Homo sapiens: one gene and its partner. The protein of the gene in region 2 purifies or fractionates together with the protein of the main gene of each other region. This does not show direct contact. Each region holds a gene or a part of one and is shown on either strand. Other genes may lie near its edges.

Region 1 (7,303 bases), on a different chromosome or scaffold from region 2:
ATGCACTCGCAACCTAGCCTACCCCAAAGAGGCTGAGCAAGGGTCCAGGGTAAGTGGGTTTCTGAGGAGTAGGGGACATGCAGGAAAGAAGGCGATCCACATGTCCCCTTCTCTTATCTCACTGCTGTCCACCTTCTCTGAATTCACCTAGACTTCATTCCACAATGGCAAGTGATGCTCATGTGAAAGGCTGGGGGGAACCTGACCAGCTCTCTCAGCCCATGACTTCCACACCCTCTCATCACCTGAAGACAAAGGGACCAGCTAGCACCCTGTCCTACCTCCAGCATCGGGACTCTGCTCGAAATCCTTGGACATTGTTGTCCCCTCCAATCAAGTATACGAAGTTGTTGAGCACCGCGATGCCCTGGTTGGACATGCGGGGGGCCAGGGAGGCAGTGAAGTGCTTCCACTCTCCCAGTAAGGGGTTTAGATACTTGGCCTGGTCGCTGAGGACAGTGGACGGCGTGGAGTGAATGCCCCCGAAGCCCACAACGCACTGGAAGTCCGACCGCAGCTCCGTTTGCGGGCTCTGCAGGCTGGGCTGTAGGCTCTCGTTCCGGTGGTACATGAGGGCGCTGGCCACTGTGTCCCTCAAAGGGCTGGGGTCCAGCTTGTCATGCAGCCGCTGCAGGACCTCAGCTTCCATCAGCGGAAACCGCACTGTCTCAAGGAGCTTTGGGGGCTCGTGCAGCGAGATCTGGTCAGCCTGCACCTGCTCCAGGCTATAATGGTAGAGAAGGGCCCCCTCATATACCTCGGTCTCGCAGGAGACCTCCAGGCGATTGCTGCTGAGGAGGGAGTAGACCTTCTCCAATGGAAGCTGGCGGTACTTGTCAGTCCGAGAGAAGGCCACAAAGTTTTTGAGGATATAGGTGTCCAGTTGCTCAGTCAGGCGGCTCAAGTCAAACAGCTCTGCCAGCCGGTAGACATCGAGAATGTTCTCTTCGTCCACCCAGGACATGAGGAAATCACAGCAGAAATGGATAATTTCTGGGATCTGCAGAGAGAATGACACCCATTCAAGCCTGGGCTGGTGAACAGCATCTGGGGGTGGGAGAGAGAATGATGGCAGAAATACGGGCTGTTGTGGGCCAGGCAAAGCAGAAGGGAAGTCCTCCTTAATTGTCCCCGACCTTTTCTGACACACTGGAGACTGGGGCTTACTGCAGACTAGGTTTAAGTCCTGGTTTGGAAACATACTGGGTGACAGGATATACAGCATGTTTTTTTTTGGTTTTGTTTTGCTTTTCTTTGAGACAAAGTTTCGCTCTTGTTGCCCAGAATGGAGTGCAGTGGCAGAATCTCGGCTCACTAACACCTCCCCCTCCCGGGTTGAAATGATTCTCCTGCCTCAGCCTCCCGTACAGAATGTTTTTAACCTCTCTAAGCCTCAGTCTCCTCATCTATAAAACGGGGATCATTAAAGTGAAGAGGAACATGATGAAAATGAGAGAGCACATAGGAGTGGACCCTTGATATATGTCAGTTCCCTCTTAGATCAAAAGTACTGGCTCGGCCGGGTGCGGTGGCTCATGCCTATAATCCCAGCACTTTGGGAGGACAAGGTGGGTGTATCACGAGGTCAGGAGTTTGAGACCAGCCTGACCAACATGGTGAAACACCGTCTCTACTAGAAATACAAAAATTAGCTGGGCGTGGTGGCGCGCGCCTGTAATCCCAGCTACTCAGGAGGCTGAGGCAGGAGAATCGCTGGAACCCAGGAGGCGGAGGTTGCAGTGAGCCGAGATCGCGCCATTGCACTCCAACCTGGGTGACAGAGCGAGACTCCGTCTAAAAAAAAAAAAAAAAAAAAAAAAAGAAGTACTGGCTCTCCAGAAAAGCAGGAAGCAGCACAAATGGTCACTGTGTCATATATCTGTGGTTTGGAAAGGACCTAAGACCATCCCCATCCCTACCCTAGGATTCTCTGGAAGAGCCTGCCTCTCCAAAAGCGCTGGGACCAGAAACAAACCTGGCTTTTTCCCCCGCCAGAACATCCACCCTGGTTCCCTAGAAGTGCTCAGAGCCTCTCAGACACCTAACCAATACCCACCCAGGAACCTGATTTAGAATTATTTTTCTTTTTTCTTTTTAAAATTTGAGACAGGGTCTTGCTCTGTTGCCCAGGCTGCAGTGCCATGGCAAGATCATAGCTCACCGAAGTCTCAAGCTTCTGGGCTCAAGTGATCCCTGACTCAGGGTTCTTGAGGTTCCCAGCTGGGTCAAGACCCACTTGACTCCAGTAAGTGCAGGGGCTCCCAGGTGGCCATATCAACCCTTCCCAGCCATGGGGAAGCACTAGTGGTTTGAAAGGACGGCAAGAGAGAGAATGACACTGGAGGGAGGTGGGAACAAGGCCACAACCAGCAGGCTGTTAAAGGCCACCCTGTGAACAGACAACCAAATCTTGGGAGAATAGGAGACAAAGGGAAGGGCCCTAGGGAAAACTGCCTGGGAGAACAAACCAGGTGTTGATAAATTATTTAGGAAAGCAGGATTTTAGAGTTTCAGTGGGGCCCCCCAGTGCCCACCTCCTTTCTTTCCATGTTCAGATTGAAAATGACGAGTACCTTGACCTCTCTGTGACCCAGACAGCTGCAGGTTCTCCCAGCAGGCTTGAACCCAAACCAGGCCCTTGAACATTCCCAGGCACTGATAAAGGCATCAAGGTTGTTACCCAAAACACTGAAGGAAAAACTGGTTCTGGCCCTGAGACAAATTCCTTAAACCCTCATAGAAACTCCATACACTAACCCACTCTGTGGGCAAGCCTGGGTAAAGCCTCTCTTTTCCCTTGTCTGTCTTGAGGACATGCTACATCACTCTATACATAAGTTCCCCTAATAAACGCTCTGGCCAGATCACCCTGGTGTTTGATGCTTCTTTCTTTGGAATCCCAAAACGGCTCCATTTCAGGATGCTGTGGGGTCCCCTCTTGTGGGAACCCCCTTGCTACCAACTCCAGCCATGTGTTCAATGCAATAAATCAGTTTCTCTAAAAATGGGAATACCTGGCTTATCCAGGATCATCAATAAATTAACCATTACACATGGAATAATTCTGCTGGTATTTATGTATTTATTTATTTATTATTTTGAGATGGGGTCTCACTCTGTTGCCCAGGCTGGAGTGCAGTGGCACGATCTCGGCTCACTGCAAGCTCCGCCTCCCGGGTTCACGCCATTCTCCCACCTCAGCCTCCCAAGTAGCTGGGACAACAGACGCCCGCCACCACGCCCGGCTAATTTTTTGTATTTTTAGTAGAGACGGGGTTTCATCGTGTTAGCCAGGATGGTCTCGATCTCCTGACCTCGTGATCTGCCCGCCTAGGCCTCCCAAAGTGCTGGGATTACAGGCGTGAGCCACGGCGCCCGGCCAAGGTATTTAAAGCTTATCAATAAACACTAACTATAACTTTTTTAAAATTCAAAAGACATCTAATATTGCTTGCAAGGTGACATGCTAAGAGCTGGATGAGACCTACCAAATGTCAGGCAGGTATGTGCCCTACATGAGGTATCCCCATGGTGCTTTGCTAGGCCCTGACCAGCTTCACTTGACCTTCTTTTTTCCCTTTTTGCCAGTCTTCTGCTTTGCCACTTCTTCCCAAACTACTAGGTTTTCCTAAAATTCTGGTTTGTCATGGGCCAGGGTCCTGAAGACCAAGTTTTGGGCAGAATGTGAGCACAAACAGCCCTGAAGAAGCCTGGGCAGCAGCAGCTCCTTGAGAGGACCCTGCTGACTCTCCTTTCAGTCCTATTTTTAGAGCAGTGGGCCTTCTGTTCAGTGAAATCTCACAGAGGAACCAGCCTGGGCTCAGGATGTGCAAAAGCCCCATACGAGGCTCACAGAAGGGACTGCATTTGCTTGGGGTAACCCAATAGGACAGTGTTACTGGGAATCAGACTCAGGCCTCTGGGGACACCGTGAAGAATCTGGTCCCAGGCCTACTGCAGGGCACAACACATGGGGGAAGCCTCCAAAAGTCACTAGCTATGTGAACATACATGATTCTACAGGCCTATGGACTTGACATGGTTATGCCAAGTAAAACCTGCTATAAAACAATATTGTGAAGAAGCCTGTTTTTTTTTGTTTGTTTGTTTTTTGTTTTGAGATAAGCTGGCATGTAGTGGTGTGGTGATCACAGCTTACTGAAGCCTCCACCTCCTGGGCTCAAGTGATTCTCCCACCTCAGCCTCCCGAGTAGCTGGAACTACAGGTGCATGCCACCATGCCCGGCTATTTTTAAAGTGCTTCTGTAGAGGTCTCGCTTTGTTGCCCAGGCTGATCTCAAACTCCTGGCCTCAAGCAATCCTCTCACCTTGGCCTCCAAAAGTGCTGGGATTACAGGCATGAACCTCCAAGCCTGGCCCAGAAGCCTGATATGTTAAAAAACTAAGATAGGCTGCTGCCTCTGAGATGACCTCTGAGGCACTGGGGGAGATGACCCAGGGCTGTCGGGAGCACTGGCCAAACCAACAGAGAGAGACTGCAGGCCTCCAAGCTGACTGGTGAGAGAGGGAAAGTGATGTTAGAAAGATGATCTGGTTTCAGTGTGTGTGATCACTGCAGGGAGAAGAAAGAAATGGCAGAAACATACAGATGGAGGCCAGGCAAAAGGGAAGGAAATGGAAACACAGAACAGAGATGGCTACAAGCAATACCGAGAAGGATGACCTGTCCTCACATGGACGCAGGGAATTAAGAAGGTGGACGGGCTCAAGGAGCCACTGAGGTTGAGCCCAGGGAACTGGCAGGATGGTCACAGGACACACAGAGCAGGGGGACTGACAGGGGAGCTCCGGGAGAGTGGCAGGTGTGGAGGAGGAGATAGGACAGCTGGACCTGAGCCATGCTGGGGGAGATGTTTCAGAGGCAGCTGAATCAGGAGTTAACTGCTGCCAGGGTGGAGAATTGGATGAGGGTTCCCAAAGCAACAATGACAGGGATGTGGGGACAGAAGAGATCTCTAAATAAAAGAACAGGGGGAAATTCTTTTGTTGTAAAAGCCAACTCCATCTACTCACCATGCAGGTATGGTGAGACAAGTCAGTCATCTCAGATCAACCCACCCAGCATCCAGGTCCTATCCACCAATCTGAGAACAGGGCACAGGGAGGCTGCCAGGGCCCTGTCACATGGGGTGGCACCTCCACATGCCCCCGAACAGGTTGGTTTTCCTGTGACTTGAGTTGTTTTTTTTTAATTGCGTCAAACCTGCTCTCATGGGAAGAAAGGTCAGAATGATGAACTTAGCATAGCATTTTGTTTCACTTTTAAGAAATGTGGGAAGAGGTGACTGTCAACTCCTATCAGGCCTCTGCCTGATAGCTCAAAGGCACCTGCAGGCCCAGTCCCGTGTAACTGCACCCACACCACTGAGAATAATCATCCAAAACATAAGTCACACTGTCAAAGCCTCAGAAAACTTTTTGAATTCTGCAGGAAAACAAGTACTTAAAGTTCAATAACAGGTTGGGTACAGAGGCTCACACCTGTAATCCCAGAACTTTGGGAAGCCAAGGTGGGAGTATCACCTGAGGCCAGGAGCTTGAGACCAGCCTGGGCAACATAACAAGGCCCCATTCCTATAAAAAAATATATATATATATAATATCAGCTAGGCACAATGGCACGCATCTTTAGTCCCAGCTACTCAGAAGGCTGAGGCGGGAGGACCACTTGAGCCTAGGAGGTGGAGGCTACAGTGAACTATGATCATGCCATTGCATTACAGCCTGGGTAACAGAGTGAGACCCTGTCTTTAAAAAAAAAAAAAAAATAGGCCAGGCGCAGTGGCTCACACCTGTAATCGCAACACTTTGGAAGGCTGAGGTGGATCACTTGAGGCCAGGGGTTCAAGACTAGCCTAAGCAACAAAGCAAGCCTCTATCTCTATAAAAATAATTTAAAAATTAGCCAGGTGTAGTGGCACATGCCTATAGGTCCTAGCTATTTGGGAGGCTGAGGCAGAAGGATTGCTGGAGCCCAGGAGGTTGAGGCTGCAGTGAGCTGTGATCGTGCCACTGCACTCCAGCCTGGGCAAGAGAGAGAGAGCTTGTCTCCAATAAATTGAATGAGTGGATGGATGGATGGGTGGATGGATGGATGGATGGATGGATGGATGGATGCATGCATGGATGGATGGATGGATGGATGGATGCCTGCCACCATGGATGGATGCATGCATGGATGGATGGATAGATGGATGGATGGATGGATGGATGGATGGATGGATGGATGGATGCATGCATGCATGGATGGATGGATGGATGCGTGCATGCATGGATGGATGGATGGATGGACAGACAAATAGATAGATAAAGTTCAGTAACAAAACACATAAGTTTTCAAGAGACTGAAGTGGCCCAGTGAGGGGACAGGCAGGAAGGGCCCTGGCAGCAATGCTGGTGGATGCTCCCCATTGCCAGACCCCAGAGCACACAGGACGTCCACATGCAGCCTCGGGTCAGCCTACCTGCTTATGTGCAGGATGCTTTCAATGACAGGGAGACTCAGACAGTGGGGAAACAACCAGCAATAGAGAAGAGGGCAAAGGCAGAGGCCTGGGGTGTCTAGAGCGGCTCTGCTTGAGCTCCAGGAACAACTCCAGAGTCTTCCCCACTTCATGGCCTTCGTCACTGCTTGGTCTCCTCACATTCCTGACCCATCTTCAAGCCAATGCTAGTGCCCGGCAGGCATCATGGGCATCTCAGGGAACCCCACCTGGGTGTGGGTCTGCCTTGCTAGATGAGACATGCCTCACCTGAAGCTGGCAGGCAGCCACCAGTGTCTCTTGTACATTGCTCAGGCTGAGCTCCAGCTCGGAGGTGTATATGAAATGTAGGATTTGGCACATAGCATTGTAGGACACACCGTGGATCAGGACCTCTTCCTGTTCCATCTCCTTCAATCCCCCAGCAAACATTCCTCTGCAAAGTGAAGACACAAGAAAATGGAGTTATACCAACAGGGACTTAAGCCCATGTTGCCAAGAGTGACAGCATTCAGAGAAGAACCTGGCGCTGGTGGCAGGGCCCTGGTAGTGGGCTGACCCACTCTGTGCTCTGAGTGAACTGTGTGCATGCATGAGCCATCCCACAAAAGGATCCTGACGAAGTCTGGGCAGCCATCCTGGAAATTGTCCTGTTTCCCTTTTCATGGGCCCAAGGAGTCCCATGTGAGCTTCGGGAGGTGAGGCCACAAGCAGCTTGCTTCTGCTGTGTTCATCAGTGCAGTTCCTGGATCGGAGCAGTAGCAACTCCAGAGCACATTTCAAAGCAATGAATTAATTAA
Region 2 (7,451 bases):
TACTCCAGCAAAGACCTAAGGACGGTAGAAAGCCCACCTAGCTTCAGGACATGGCCCATGTGCACAGAACACTGAATTCTGGGAATCATGTGGTGGTTAATTCTGATTGTGCCCCATCCCACTCCTTCTCTTCCTTTCTCTGTGCCACCAGGAAGCTGATTACGACAGAATATACTGCCACATCACCCACGCTCCCGTGTCAGAGGCTTACCACCATTGCTGGTCTCTGGGTGTGTCACCTTTATTGGTTCCCTAAATCGGCCACACTTTTGAGTCACATCTTCATTAAAGCTTACTCAAACCATCTGAGGGAAATCCTGTATGATCGTAAGTGATTCAGATATGGCCAATTCTTGTTATTTGCTGGGTCCCTAGATACTTACATACAACAGAATGTAACAGACACTCAAAATATTTGCTAATGTAAACCTCCTCAGATGTTGCAATTCAGCTCAGCCCAGATGTGCACCCCCTATCCTCATCCTTTAATCACCTAGGTGCTTTGAAACACTGGATCTGGCCAGGTGTGGTGGGTCACACTTGTAATCCCAGAACTGTGGGAGGCCAGGTGGGTCACTTGAGTCCAGGAGTTTGAGACCAGCCTGGCTGACGGGGAAAAACTCCGTCTCTACAAAAAATAAAAAAATTAGCCAGGTGTAGTGGCACACACCTGTAGTCCCAGCTACTTGGGAGGCTGAAGCAGGAGGGTCACTTGAATTCAGGAGTTTCTCTACAAAAAGTACACAAATTAGTTACTGAGGAGGCTGAGGTGGAAGATTGCTTGAGCCCAAGAGGCAGTGGTTGCAGTGAGCCAAGTTCACGCCACTACACTCTAGCCTGGGGGACCGAGTGAGATCCCGTCTCACAAAACAAACAAACAGACAAACCAAACAAAAACACTGGATCTGAGATGGGTGGGTTTACCTCTCTGAGAGCCTATGTGATATGCAGAGGGGATGATGCGTGTCACTTAAAACTGGCTGGTTTGACAGGTCACTGCCCCAGTCGGGAATGTGGGGCCCCGTTAGAGGGATAAGGAGGCCACATCTTTACTGGGAAGGAGTAGGATTTGCAGAGTCTACTTCTCAGAGAGCCTGGACTGTTTTTTGCCCAATCAGATGAGTGTAGCCCCAAGGGTGATGAGGGAGTCTGACCTGGGATGCAGCTGAGCTGAGAGAGTCATTTCCTAAATAAAATGGAAACTGCCACTATGACTTCTGCGAAGAAGAGGGCCTGTTGAAAAGTATTTCCAAATAAATGTTTAGGGCAGTGGTCTCCAACCCTTTTGGCACCACAAAAGGGGAAGGTCAACTACTGTTCATGCCTGTAATCCCAGCACTTTGGGAGGCTGAGGTGGCCGGAATTACTTGAGCCCAGGAATTGGAGACTAGCCTAGACAACATAGTGAAACTCTGTCTCTGCAAAAAAAATTAATTAGTTTAAAAAAGAAAAAAAAGAAGAATTTAAAAATGGTTAAAGGTTGGTGCAGGTATTACATTTCCGGACTAAAAGAAACATACCCCTCATAAAAGAAACTTTTTATCTTTACTAAATTAGTGCTTGTGCAAAAAGCTTGGTTATCACCAGCTTAGTGCTCTGGAGACTTGTTTCTTGACTATTTTATGATGCTTGCTTCACCTTAAATACCAGTCAACAGTTTGCTTAAACCAGGAGTAAAAGAATTCATCTGAAGTAAGTACTTATCAGAAATTCCAAATCTCATACTTCCCAGTCTGCAGAAAGCTGTTCTCCTGACATTGCATTCAACTTATCTCTGTCAAAAGTAATACAATAACCTAGCTCAAAAGAAACTGTGGCCAGGTGCGGTGGCTCACACCTGTAATCCCAGCACTTTGGGAGGCCGAGGCGGGTGGATCACCTGAGGTCAGGAGTTCGAGATCAGCCTGGCCAACATGGTGAAACCCCGTCTCTACTAAAAATACAAAAAAAAAAAAAAAAGATTAGCCGAGTGTGATGGTGCCAGAGTCCCAGCCACTAGGGAGGCTGAGGCAGGAGAATCGCTTGAACCTCGGAGGCAGAGGCTGCAATGAGCCGAGATTGCACTACTGCCCTAAAGCCTGGGTGACAAAGCAAGACTCCGTCTCAAAAACAAAAACACTGTGGTTGTATTTCTCAGATAAATTAATCCAAATATCCCAATAAATTTTCACCATTAATAAGCTCTTAGGACTTAACAACCTCACCAGCCCTTCCAGAAAGTTATCAAAATCCCACTTCTTTACTTCTATAAAACAGAGCGATACTAGCCAGCAGGTGCACAAACCAAACCTAATTTGGAGTTCTGAGGCCTTGAGCAAATTGCTTTTTAGCAATTTTCCCAGCGTTGAATCCTTTGGTGAGTAAAACGAGGGAAACTCAAAGTGATTCCACACTCTGTGGTGAATTGTCTCCTTCATCTATTCTGTGTATCCTGCTTGGGTAGAGAAGAGGATAGAAAGCCAGACTAGGTAGGAGACGTTTCATTTTTTGTGGGATAGATCCTGACTGGGGGATTAGGGAAGAAGGAGGATCTATGGTGGAAAAAAAGGGGGAACCTGAAGGAGACTCTGGAGACAAGGATGAGATCCTAAAGTGAAGAAAGGAGGGGGTGTCTCTGGAAAGACAGTGAAGATCCCAAGGTCCTAGGGAAAGAACTTCAGGACAGGTGATTAGGGTGTGGAGAGGGAGGCATTGGCACCCTAGGGCCAAGAATGGAATTCTGGGGAAGGAACTCTGTGGAAAGACTGAAAAGGATGCTGAAGGTGGACGGCCAGATATGAAATCATGGAGGGGGCTCCGGGAAAAACAGGAGGGTTAAGGGAGATTATGAGGTTCGAAGACGGGATCCTGGTGGAAAAGCCTTCTGTGACAGAAAGACCCGAGGAGACAACGAGGGCGGGGAATGGGGACCGAGAGAGCCAAGAATGGCACCCTGGCGGAAGAATTCTGTGGAGAAACCTGGAGGGAGGGGGTATCTACAAGGTGGGGGCGGGAGACCCCTAAAATCAGCGATCTGACTTACTTTCTCCGCTGGACTTGTACTGCTTTAAACACATCTTCACGTTTCAGCACCACGAAGTCGCCGTCGCGGATGCGGTGGTCTCCGGGATGCTGTGGTTGTGGGCCCGGCTGCTCCCCTGAGCCCTCCATGACGCTCAGCCGGTCGCCGTGCTCCACGGCGTCCCGCCCCTCCTCCTCGGTTGTCGCCACCGCCAGCCTCACTTCCCACAACCTGGCGCACTAGGAGCCCTCCGACCGGCACCGCCCCCACGTGTTGCACGCCGCTTCCGCTTTCCGGCCCAGACCTCAAGACCGCTTCCGGAAGCCTCTCGGCTTCCGTCTGGCCAAACTCCTTGATTGGCTGCACTCCGCCCCGCCCCTCTCGTCTTGCCGCTTCTTTGAGCGGAAGTTGGATCACTGAAGCGCCAAAAAAGAATTTAGGGGAAGACCTGATTTTCGCTTGAGGCATTTTTGCGGCGCTGTGCGCTACAGACACCTTCTGGAAGCTGCGGTGGGGAAACTGAGTTTCCCGAGCCGTTGAGACAGATGGGGTTCAGCACCGCGCGGGGACGACAGGAAAGCTGCGGCTGAAGAGAACTGCGGACTTGGCAGGAGTCGCCTGAGGAGCTAAGATCCCGGAGACTCTTAGCCCCGTGGTGCTTCTCTACGGGAGGGAGGGAGGGAGAATCCGGCCGGACAGATCTGCGCGTATCCTGGAGCCGGCCCAGTTGTGAACTAGGAGAGCTTTGGGACCTCTGTCCCAAGCAAGTAAGAACTTTAGCCTTAGGAGATGTAAATAAAGTAGTATTTGAAGAAGCACAGGTACCCAACTGTTTCTTTTTACTCTTTCTCCAGTCCTACTTCTTAACGTTTTTTTGAATTTGTTACTGTTCTCAGCATATTGTCTCGTTTGAGAAGGGTATGGCACGCAGCGTTGTTGAAGGAGCGCCTCAGCTTGGGAGGCTGAAAGTTTTATCTCTGTACTGTCGACAAACAACTTTGATCTTGATCGGTTTGCTTAATTTCTTTGAGCATCAGTTTCATAATGTGTAATGCCTAATTATTGGAGCCCTGTCATGCCGTTAAATCGTGAACTTTCTAGTTACTATCTTGTTTTATTAACTAAACCCCTTTTAAGTAAGGATTTGGGTAGAGTATTTGATAATGAATTGCACTGCAGCGTACAGGTATATCTTTATTTACTTGTATACTTAGGATATGAATCATTTTTAAGTAGACGTGTATTTTATAAGAACAGTTTTGGATTTACAGAAAAACTGCACAAAAAATGGATGTGACACTGCAGGATTGACTGTATGTAAGAAGCTATGATGATGTATCCCTAGTGTCTCACAGGCCAGAATTATGTTCATCCTGTCCTGCCCTATAATAAGAAGTCTCAAATACTGCAAATAAGTTTTCATAGAGTTAATTACCTGTCCTATTTTCATTTCTGTAATGGGGACTTGTAAACAGGTACAGTACCTGTCCTTATTTTTAACCTGTGAGCGTCTAGTATACGTAAACCATATTTAATAGTTATTAAACTATTATGGTATACCTTAAAAAGCGATAGAGATTAGAAACTTAACTGCAGAATATTTGGGTCTTGTATCATAGCTGTACAACTTTGCAAGCCTGTTTGCTACTCTTGAACCTAGAATACATTAATTTTTCCCTTTTTATTAATACATTTTTAAGAGCACTATTTTCCTTACAGTTTTGGTGAAGACCTTTTTAATATCTATCTTTTAGGAGAGATGAATGGAGAGTATAGAGGCAGAGGATTTGGACGAGGAAGATTTCAAAGCTGGAAAAGGGGAAGAGGTGGTGGGAACTTCTCAGGAAAATGGAGAGAAAGAGAACACAGACCTGATCTGAGTAAAACCACAGGAAAACGTACTTCTGGTAGGTGAGGTCAATGATTGTTCAATTTTTTTCACTTAAGGAAGCAATTCACGTCTATCATACAAGGCGGTTTATCTCATACTTCAGTTTGTCTTTTATTTCATGCTACTCCTTAGTAAGTATTTGAACATTGATGTCCCAGATTTTTACTAAAACCCCTAATTTGGATACTCTATTAATGAGAGTCTCATTTGGAAAGAGAAGCATATTGGAAAAATGTTCACTCTGTTTCTACTAACCTAGTATTTTATTTTTTTCAGAACAAACCCCACAGTTTTTGCTTTCAACAAAGACCCCACAGTCAATGCAGTCAACATTGGATCGATTCATACCATATAAAGGCTGGAAGCTTTATTTCTCTGAAGGTAGGGTTTAAAAAGTACAAAAAAGCACCATAAATCATATTTTCTTAACTTGTCTTTGGATGCTACATCTTGTATTACTGTAATTCATTTACTAACATATACCTGCTTTAATCTTAGTTCACCCAAACAATTAAATGATGTTTATGTTTCAAAAGCATTTTAGACTTTATATCAGTCAGGAAAGCAGAAACCATACTAGGTATTTCAAAAAGGGGACTTAATACAAGAAATTGGATACAAAAATGGAAGACTGAAAGAGCAGAAAGGAAATATTGAGGTAACTCCCCAGAAAGTAGTAATTCAGGAAGCAGCAACCATCCTTATGGCTAAGAGACTAAAAGAAGTTCTGAGGTTACCAGAATGTGGGAATTCAAAGGTTGGAGAGGTCACAGCATAGCTGTTATTTTGACTTTTGAGGGGCACCCTACAAAGCTATGCTTGGACTTCTGAAGGCTACCTTACAGAGCTGTGCTTAGACCACTAAGGCAAATGAAGCTGGTTGCCACTGGTAACTGAGGGGGCATGACTCAGTGGTGCTTGGAACTGGAGGCTAGCACTATCGTTATCTTCTGCAGCTGCAGAGATGCTGAAAAGAGTTGGAAACAAGAATAAATTCCTTTCTCTTCCTGCCACCTTCCCGTCTCTAAAGTGCCTTCAATTGGCAGAATTTAAAGAGAATCTGAGACATGTAGGGTACAGATCTGAATTATAGCATCGCAGAGCAGGAAGTAGAACAGTGGGCCTGAAATCAAGGGACAATAACAAATACAGCTTTGTGTAGAAACACAGGTAAGGAATCTCCCTTTGATAATTAGGAATACCAATTAACCTACATCAGTCTGTATAGGTGCAGGGAACTGTCTTTTTTGTGCTGTTAAAATACCCATTTGTTTCTTATGTCTCATGAGGGGTGTGTGTGTGTGTGTGTGTGTGTGTGTGTGTGCATACTTTTTATTTTTTTTTGAGATGGAGTCTTGCTCTGTTGCCCAGGCTGAAGTGCAGTGGCGCGATCTTGGCTCACTGCAAGCTCTGCCTCCCAGGTTCACGCCATTCTCCTGCCTCAGCCTCCCGAGTAGCTGGGACTACAGGCACCCGCCACCACGCCCGGCTAATTTTTTCTGTTTTTAGTAGAGACGGGGTTTCACCGTGTTAGCTAGGATGGTCTTGATCTCCTGACCTCGTTATCCGCCCGCCTCGGCCTCCCAAAGTGCTAGGATTCCAGACGTGAGCCACCGCACCCAGCCGCATACTTTTTTTTTTTAGGAAAACTAGACGTTTGAGGTCCAGGACCCTCCCTGCCCCATACCAGGCATGCAGTAGTCATTTTGTGAATGAATAGAGTACTTTACAAATGTTTTCTTTATTGGAAATCTGTTCGTTTTTTTCCATCAATAGAATCTGTTTCATGAATGATCTTTTGTTCCTTTAGGATGTATTAGCCACCAGCACTCCCATTGCTCCCCTAGCAGATAGCTCAGAACACTATAAGTGATCTTTGGACAGTCCTAAAGATGGAGTTCAAGAGGTGCCTTAGCCTTCACCATCTGTGCTTCCAAACTACTTTATTGTACTGTTCTTCTGTGAGAGACATATTTGAAAATGTAGAACTTTAGAGTGTTAAAAAAAAAAAGGCTTTTCAGTTTTGCCACCAGGGTCAAGTGTTGGTCTGTCTCCTGATCTCAGGAAAGACTGTGATTGTGATTGTCTTCAGCTCTGTCAGAGTAAGAGCTTAGTTTATGTGTCTGGCTTTGGCTTTATTATAATTTTTAGTTTAAGCTTATTGTCTAAATTATCTGAACTAACATGTCCTATTAGGTGTCAAAGATGCAAAACAAAGTTTCCCAGATAGTGGGGCTTTTAGAGAGAGAGAGTTTCTGTCTGCATTTCACATTATGCAAACCTAAATTTGTTTTAGAATCTTAAGTTTACATTCTATACTAGTTCTTATATGAATGTAATCAAAATACAAAGCAATTAGAAAAAAATCATCTACCATGTATATAGTGCTGCTTTTGTCTCATGAAAAATGTGCATGTACCTGTGTGATTATTTGTGCTAATGCCATATTTGTTGGATTAGTTTACAGCGATAGCTCTCCTTTGATTGAGAAGATTCAAGCATTTGAAAAATTTTTCACAAGGCATATTGATTTGTATGACAAGGTAAGATTCCTCTACA

What was found. The genes of interacting proteins can lie anywhere in the genome.
Region 1: the proteins of TRMT6 (region 2) and KLHL22 purify together in Homo sapiens (co-immunoprecipitation; 3 studies listed by BioGRID and IntAct, with this or other methods). This does not show direct contact.

Annotation. Positions count from the first base shown.
Region 1 is NC_000022.11:20,464,577-20,471,879, forward strand, and holds part of KLHL22 (kelch-like protein 22), read right to left. Parts: intron 6,940-7,303; coding exon 6,774-6,939; intron 1,001-6,773; coding exon 282-1,000; intron 1-281. UniProt on the Homo sapiens protein: Substrate-specific adapter of a BCR (BTB-CUL3-RBX1) E3 ubiquitin ligase complex required for chromosome alignment and localization of PLK1 at kinetochores.
Region 2 is NC_000020.11:5,947,256-5,954,706, forward strand, and holds the start of TRMT6 (tRNA (adenine(58)-N(1))-methyltransferase non-catalytic subunit TRM6), read right to left. Parts: upstream 3,279-7,451; 5' UTR 3,151-3,278; coding exon 3,023-3,150; intron 1-3,022. Other genes in the region: DNA helicase MCM8, read left to right, coding at 4,761-4,908, 5,169-5,273, 7,353-7,435. UniProt on the Homo sapiens protein: Substrate-binding subunit of tRNA (adenine-N(1)-)-methyltransferase, which catalyzes the formation of N(1)-methyladenine at position 58 (m1A58) in initiator methionyl-tRNA.